2 linked regions of the Homo sapiens genome follow. The gene in region 1 interacts genetically with each later gene. Each region holds a gene or a part of one and is shown on either strand. Other genes may lie near its edges.

What was found.
Region 2: changes in MAP3K10 (region 1) and CSNK1G2 together harm fitness more than expected from each alone (negative genetic interaction), as found in Homo sapiens cells (one large-scale study listed by BioGRID).

What each region holds. Positions count from the first base shown.
Region 1 is NC_000019.10:40,197,628-40,201,437, forward strand, and holds part of MAP3K10 (mitogen-activated protein kinase kinase kinase 10), read left to right. Parts: intron 1-747; coding exon 748-928; intron 929-3,810. UniProt on the Homo sapiens protein: Activates the JUN N-terminal pathway.
Region 2 is NC_000019.10:1,947,473-1,951,282, reverse strand, and holds part of CSNK1G2 (casein kinase I), read right to left. Parts: intron 1-3,810. UniProt on the Homo sapiens protein: Serine/threonine-protein kinase. Casein kinases are operationally defined by their preferential utilization of acidic proteins such as caseins as substrates. It can phosphorylate a large number of proteins. Participates in Wnt signaling.

The sequences.
Region 1 (3,810 bases):
ACTCTGCCTCTTTAGCAGAAAGAATGGCAAAGTCTCATGGCAGAGTGTGGACACAGGAAGGGGTAGAATTGGGACCCTGACTGCAGTGTGCCACGGGGGTGATAGACACGAGGGGGAAGCCACGTTCCTCCCTTCTGCCCCAGGTTTGCACTTCCTGCTTCCAGGGTAGCTGGGAACTCAAGGCCTGGAGGACTAAGGCCTTGGCTGTTGTTTCTTTTTTTTGAGACGAGGTCTCACTCTATTGCCCAGGCTGGAGTGCAATGGCAAGACCATGGCTCACTGCAGCCTCAACCTCCCAGCCTCAAGTGATCCTCCCAACTTAGCCTCCCAAGTGGCTGGGACTGTAGGCATGCACCACCACACCCAGGTATTTTTAAAAAGTTTTTGTAGAGATGAGGTCTTGCCATGTTGCACAGGCTGGTCTCGAACTCCTGGGCTCAAGTGACCCGCTTCAGCCTTGGCTGTTGGTTCTTGACCATTCATGGAGCTCCCCAAAGCCCAGGACAGAATCAGGAGGGCAGAGGACACAGGAGGAGCTCCCTACTCCCTCATGGGAGCCTGGGACAGGGATTAGACCTGGGCGGAGGGGCTCATGGATGTTCCAGGCCAGGAAAGGACCTGCCACAGAGCGGGGCAGCCTGAGGCAGTGAGAGGAAAGACGTGTTTCTAGCTGAGGCAGCGGGCCAGAACACTTGGGTCTGCGGCGTGGCAGGTCTGGGGTGACCCACCTTTCTTCCCACCCCACAGTCCTGATCCTGGAGGCCATCGAGAACCACAACCTCGCAGACACGGTGCTCAAGATCACGGACTTCGGCCTCGCCCGCGAGTGGCACAAGACCACCAAGATGAGCGCTGCGGGGACCTACGCCTGGATGGCGCCGGAGGTTATCCGTCTCTCCCTCTTCTCCAAAAGCAGTGATGTCTGGAGGTGCTGAAAGGCGCGGCCGGGATGGCCTCTGGGGAGTAAGGGAGGGAGGAAGGGGTGAGGGCAGAGTGGGAGGGAGGGTCTCCTGCTGAAGCCAGGATCTCAGTCTGACAAAGGGACCTGCTGGCAAGGTCAGGCCACCAGACAAGTGCCAGTTACCTGTTCAGCTAGCACAAATGGCAACTAGGGGGCACACTGGATTAGAATAAAAAGCTCATAGGATCTAGAGACAAGGCCGGGCGCGGGGGCGCACACCTGTAATCCCAGCACTTTGGGAGGCCGAGGTGGGCGGATCACTTGAGGTCAGGAGTTTGAGACCAGCCTGACCAACATGGTGAAACCCCATCTCTACTAAAAATACTAAAATTACCTGGGCGTGGTGGCAGATGCCTGTTGTCCCAGCTACTCGGGAGACTGAGGCAGGAGAATCACTTGAGGCCGGGAGGCAGAGATTGCAGTGGGCTGGGATTGGCCACTGCACTCCAGCCTGGGTGACAGAGCGAGACTCTGTCTCCAAAAAAAGAAAAAATTTAAAAAAGCATAGAGACAGCACATGGATGCTAGCACTGAAAGCCCCCTCAGACACTAGCCCATGCACTGTCCCATCTGTCAGACAGGAAAATGATTAATTCACTCATTCATTCCTTCATCTAACTGCACCGGGTTCTAGGGATATAGCAGAGAAGAAAAATACATGCAATCCCTGCCCTCAGGAATAGTAAGTCAGTCAACATACAAGAAGCTCTTTTTTATAAAGCTGTTTTTTAAGAAAATTATAATTTTTAAAGACAAGTACACCAGAAAAAAGTGTTAGTACAAAGTGCGAGGAGGCTGAGAGGAAGGCACTTTAAGGGCTGGAAGACTACTTTTGGGAACGCTTCTCTGAGCAATCTGAGAAATGATACTTCATCTGAGTTCCAAGTGGCAAAAAGGAACCAGTCACGAAAAGTTTGGAGGAAGAAGGAGGTGCTGAGGTGAGCATGGTGTGTCCCAGAAACAGCAAAGAGGCCCATGTGGCTGCCACTGTGCAGGCAAGGAAGAGAGAGGTAGGAAATTATGTAGGAGAGGGAGCTGGAAGGCCCTGTGGGTGAGGGAGTGGCCTTCAGGTTTTATTCTAATGAAGTAGGAAGCCATGAGGAGCCATGTCTGAATAGAGTGGTAGCTCACACCTATAATCCCAGTACTTTGGGAGGCCAAGGTGGGAGGATCACTTGAGGCCAGGAATTTGAGACCAGCCTGGTCAATGTAGTGAGACCCCATGTATATGAAAAAGAAATTTTTAAATTAATTTTTATAAAAGGAAGTAAATAAAAACTCCTTTGGAGGCCGGGTGCGGTGGCTCACGCCTGTAATCCCAGCACTTTGGGAGGCCCAGGTGGGTGAATCCCTTGACACCAGGAGTTTGAGACCAGCCTGGCCAACATGGTGAAATCCCACCTCTACTAAAAATACAAAAATTCGGCCAGGCGCGGTGGCTCACGCCTGTAATCCTGGCACTTTGGGAGGCCGAGGTGGGTGGTTCACTTGAGGCCAGGAGTTCATTCAGGACTAGCCTGGCCAACATGGTGAAACCCCATCTCTACTAAAAATACAAAAATTAGCCAGGCATGGTGGTGGGTGCCTGTAGTCCTAGCTACTCAGGAGGCTGAGGCAGGGGAATTGCTTGACTGCAGGAGGCAGAGGTTGAGATGGCGCCGTTGCACTCCAGCCTGGGTGACAGAGCAAGACTCCATCTGAAAAAAAATACTTAAAAATAAAAGCTCCTTTGACTGTTAGGTAGAGACAGCCAATGATGGGTCTGTTGCTGTCACCAGTGAGAGTTGATGGTGGCCATGGAGACTTTCAACCCAGGACCTTCTGCTTGGTTGGAGCCAAACCTGGGTCTCCCCATTTACTGTTCCCGTCAATTCCCAGCTGAGGCTCCAGATTGTCCAAGCAGCAAATTAATGGGTATGGGACTGAGACAGATCAGACAGGAAGTCTCCAGCTCAGCCTAGAGCAGAGCAGCCCTTTGGGAGAATTTCCAACTGGCTGTACATCAGGCGTTCATTTGTGCTACCTTTTTTTTTTTTTTTTTTTTTTTTGGGACAGAGTCTCACTCTGCCGCCCAGGCTGGAGTGCAATGGCACAATCTCAGCTCACTGCACCCTCCTCCTCCCAGATTCAAGTGATTCTTGTGCCTCAGCCTCCCGAGTAGCTGAGATTATAGGCATGCACTGGCTAATTTTTATATTTTTAGTGGAGACAGGGTTTCACCATGTTGGCTAGGCTGGTCTTGAAGTCCTGACCTCAGGTGATCCGCCCGCCTCAGCCTCCTAGAGTGCTGGGATTACAGGCATGAGTCACTGCACCCGGCCGGGCAGGCTAATTCTTTCTGATGTGGTCCTGTCCTGTACTTAGCAGGATGCAGGATATCCACACCTCCCCGCCATAAACTTCAGTAACATTCTCAGTCATTATTACAATCACAGTAACCCCATAGGTTTCCAAGGACATGGGAGAGAGGGGTGGATCATGCTACCCTCCAGTTATAAACCACTGTTTCTCCCCCACCTTGTATGGTCTCCATTCTGAAGTTTACTTCATGATCCAAAATGACTGCTTGAGCTCCAGCGTTTTTTGTTTTTTTTTTTTTTTTGAGCTGGAGTCTTGCTCTGTCGCCCAGGCCGGAGTACAGCGGCGCGATCTTGGCTCACTGAAACCTCTGCCTCCTGGGTTCAAGCAATTATCCTGCCTCAGCCTCCCAAGTAGCTGGGACTACAGGCACATGCCACCAGGCCCAGCTAATTTTTGTATTATTTATTTATTTTTTTTAATTTTTCAGTAGAGACGGGGTTTCACCATATTGGCCAGGACAGCCTTGATCTCTTGACCTCATGATCTGC
Region 2 (3,810 bases), about 38 Mb from region 1:
TACAGGCGCCCGCCACCACGCCCGGCTAATTTTTTGTATTTTTTTTAGTAGAGACAGGGTATTTTAGTAGAGCCAGGATGGTCTCAATCTCCTGACCTCGTGATCTGCCCGTCTCGGCCTCCCAAAGTGCTGGGATTACAGGCGTGAGCCACCGTGCCTGGCCATCTTTGATTTTTATAAACCAGCAAACGGTAGAAAGTGTTGCCTCCCCAGGCACACGGCGTCTCCTCTCACCTCCCCTCATTTCAACAGCAGGGGACAGACACAGACCACCCGCCTGGCCAGCTCTCTGACCCCCATGGTCTCCCCTGAAAACTGGGCACGGGGATCACCCAGGGATCTAGGGGGGCACCAAGGCGAATAAACGCCCAGCTCACCGAAAACTTCCCAACACGCTCCGCCATGATACCCCATAACCCCCACCTGGAGGGTCTCCAGCAAAACTCCCGCAGCCCCTCCCTCCTGGATGCCCCAGAGCAGGTGACACCTCCCTTCCAGCGGCCAGGTCCCCACCTGACACTGGCTGGAGGGAGGCAGGGGGACGGGTGCTGGTGGCCTCTGGGGCACGAGAAGGTGCCTTGGTGTTCGGTGGGCGGCAGCAGATTTAGGCCGGGCCAGCCCAGGAAGGCCCGTCCGTCCCAACATGGAAGGAGGCCTTGGCTGTTTCTAAGTGCACCCCCTCCTGTCTCCCAGAGGCCTCAGACAATTTTCTCTGGAAAGCGGACGGTGCTCATCTCCTGGAATCTGAGGTTTGTGAAAGAACATCTTCTTCAGATGTTGCTGTAATGTTCAAGTTCTCCAACACTGCTGAGTTCTCTTTTGCTACTTAAAAATAAACATTGATGGCCAGGCGCGGTGGCTCACGCCTGTAATCCCAGCACTTTGGGAGGCCGAGGAGGGCGGATCACGAGGTCTGGAGATCAAGACCATCCTGGCAAACACAGTGAAACCCCGTCTCTACTAAAAATACAAACAATTAGCTGGGTGTGGTGGCGGGTGCCTGTAGTCCCAGCTACTCGGGAGGCTGAGGCAGGAGAATGGTGTGAACCCGGGAGGCAGAGCTTGCAGTGAGCAGAGCTCACGCCACCACACTCCAGCCTGGGGGACAGAGCGAGACTCCGTCTCATAAATAAATATATAAATAAATATATAAATAAATAAAATAAATAAAAATAAACGTTGATTTTTGTGGCCTCGAAAGGCCAGGGCCACCTCGATGATCCTGTGGGGCTGGGGCCTACCGGTCACTCTGTGGACACTGGATGCCTCCGGCCTCTGAACTCGCTGTGGCGAAGGTCACGGGCAGCACATCCATCTGTCTGTCCCACTGGCCGTGCTCGTCACAGGGTGCAGGATCTGGCCCTGTGCCTGACAAGGCAGTGGGGACACCGGGCACATGCAGGACCCCTGGCTTTCTAGACGGCATGGGGATCAGGACAGCAGGGTCCCTGATGCCCTGCAGGCCAGAGAAGCATCGGGCCGAAGGACAGGAGAAACCAAGTCACCGGAAGAGGGGAGTGGTCGTCGCTGTGCAGAGATCCAGTCCCCAAAACCCGGCAGGGGACCCAAACAGTGCAGGTATGGATGGCCGTCTGCGGCTCCTCAAATGGTCCAACCGGGAGTGGCCCTGTGACCAGCGGTTCCACCGCTAGAAGTCCACCTGACAGAAGAATCACGCAGCCACACGGGAACCGGACACGGGTGCTCGCAGCAGCCACACGCGGATGCCATGCAAACATCTATCACAGAAATAAACACGTGGCCACCCACACGCCGGAACACGACTCAGCCACGAACAGGAGCGAGACTCGGACGCGGGCCATGGCGCGGATGCACCGAGGGTGTCACACTCAGTGAGAGACGCCAAACACACCAGGCCTCATCCCGTGTGATTCCACCCCTAGGAGGTCCCTGGAGCCCTCAGAGTCACAGAGCCAGAAAGTAGGATGGGGGTGCCAGGGGCTGGAGAGGGCACGGGAGTGAACGTTTCACGAAGACAGCGTCTCAATTTGGGAAGGTGGGAAGGTTCTGGAAAGGATGGTGTGGAAGGCTGGCTGCTGATGGGGCCAGGGCTCCCTTTGCAGGTGATGAGAACACTCTGGAATTACAGGTGGTGGCTGCACTCACAGAGGAGCCTTGACCACGGCAGGTTTGAACTGACAGGTCCACTCTGACGTGGATTTTTTCAATAAAGGTTGCCCTGAGGGCGCCAGCCTCTCCTGGCTCCTTCCCGCTCTGCCACCCGAGACAGCGAGACCCACCCTCCCTTCCTCAGCCCTCAACGTGAACACGACGAGGACAGAGGCTTCCATGAGCATTACTTCCACTGCGTGAAGAGCAAACAGGGTTTCTCTTCCTTCTGCTTTTCTCCACATGTTCTGGTCTCCAGCTTCCCTCACTGTGAGAACGCAGCACCTAACACAACACACGAGGTATGTGTGCGCGGACCACGTGTCCTCCCGAGGCCTCTGGTCACCAGCAGGCTGTCGGCAGCGGCATCTGGAGGACTCGAAAGCTATACGAGGGTATTTTGCTACATGAGGGGCTGCTGCCCTAAACCCCACCCTGCTCAAGGGTCAGCTGTACAAAAACCACTTGCGTGCACACGTTGCCGAATTTTACCAAACGTGGATTATGTTCCCAGCAAAAAAAAGTGGCTCATGCTCTAAGGACCACACCGAAATAAGGCTGGTAAGAGAACAGTGAGCTGGGTCAGTGTGACGGGATCTTTTTTTTTTTTGCGTTTTTTTTTTTTTTTTTTGAGACGGAGTCTCACTCTGTCGCCCACATGGAGTGCAATGGCGCGGTCTCAGCTCACTGTAAGCTTCGCCTCCCGGGTTCATGCCATTCTCCTCCCTCAGCCTCCCGAGTAGCTGGGAGTACAGGCGCCTGCCACCGCGCCCGGCTAATTTTTTGTCTTTTTAGTAGAGACGGGGTTTCACTGTGTTAGCCAGGATGGTCTCGATCTCCTGACCTCGTGATCCACCCGCCTCGGCCTCCCAAAGTGCTGGGATTACAGGCGTGAGCCACCACGCCCGGCCGGGATCGTTAATTTTAAGAAACGCTGTGAGCCCGGCTCTGGCCAGCACCCTGGGGATGAGAGGGGGAGGGACAGGGCCCGGGGCAGCGGCCTTCCAGAATGGCTCCCTCCGGTGCAGGATCAAGTCTGAGCCCAGGGCGGGGCCGCCCCCCGAAGCCACACCTCCTGCTCACAGGGCCAGGGTTTAACCAGCTCATCCCGGGTCCCGGCCCACGAAGCTTTCAGAGGAACCGGGGCTGTGCGCCCACAGGAAGGAGAGGCCAGTGCCCGGGCACGAGGACGAGCTGACTCATGGGGGCCCCAGGACGTCACCACACCCATTGCCCAGGGCCGCGGGCGAGGTCCAAGGGGCAGCGGAGGTCCCCGACAACTCATGGGGCAGCCACGGTCCACCCAGGGCTCAGGCAGCGAGCCCCACACAGCGCCCCTCTCCACGGCGTACAGGCCTGACCAGCGTGATGGCACAGCACGCACACACCTGTGCAGACGCCAGCGCAAACGCACACCACCCCTGCGGTCGCAAGCCCTGTCCCAGCCCACCTGCAGGCTCCAGGGCTCTGGCTGGCCTGCACGTGGCCAGGGCCCAGCTGGATCCCCCTCGGCGCACCCACCCTCAGAGGAACTCAAAGGCACACCCAGCAAGTCAGAGGCAGACACGGGCCAGTCCGTGTCCTCACGCTGGTCCCGTGCGCTGCCCTCAGGCTCCCGTCCTGGGAACTGTCCCCAGGCAGAGCCTGGGCATCAGCGCCAGCTGCCCTGCCCCAGGACCA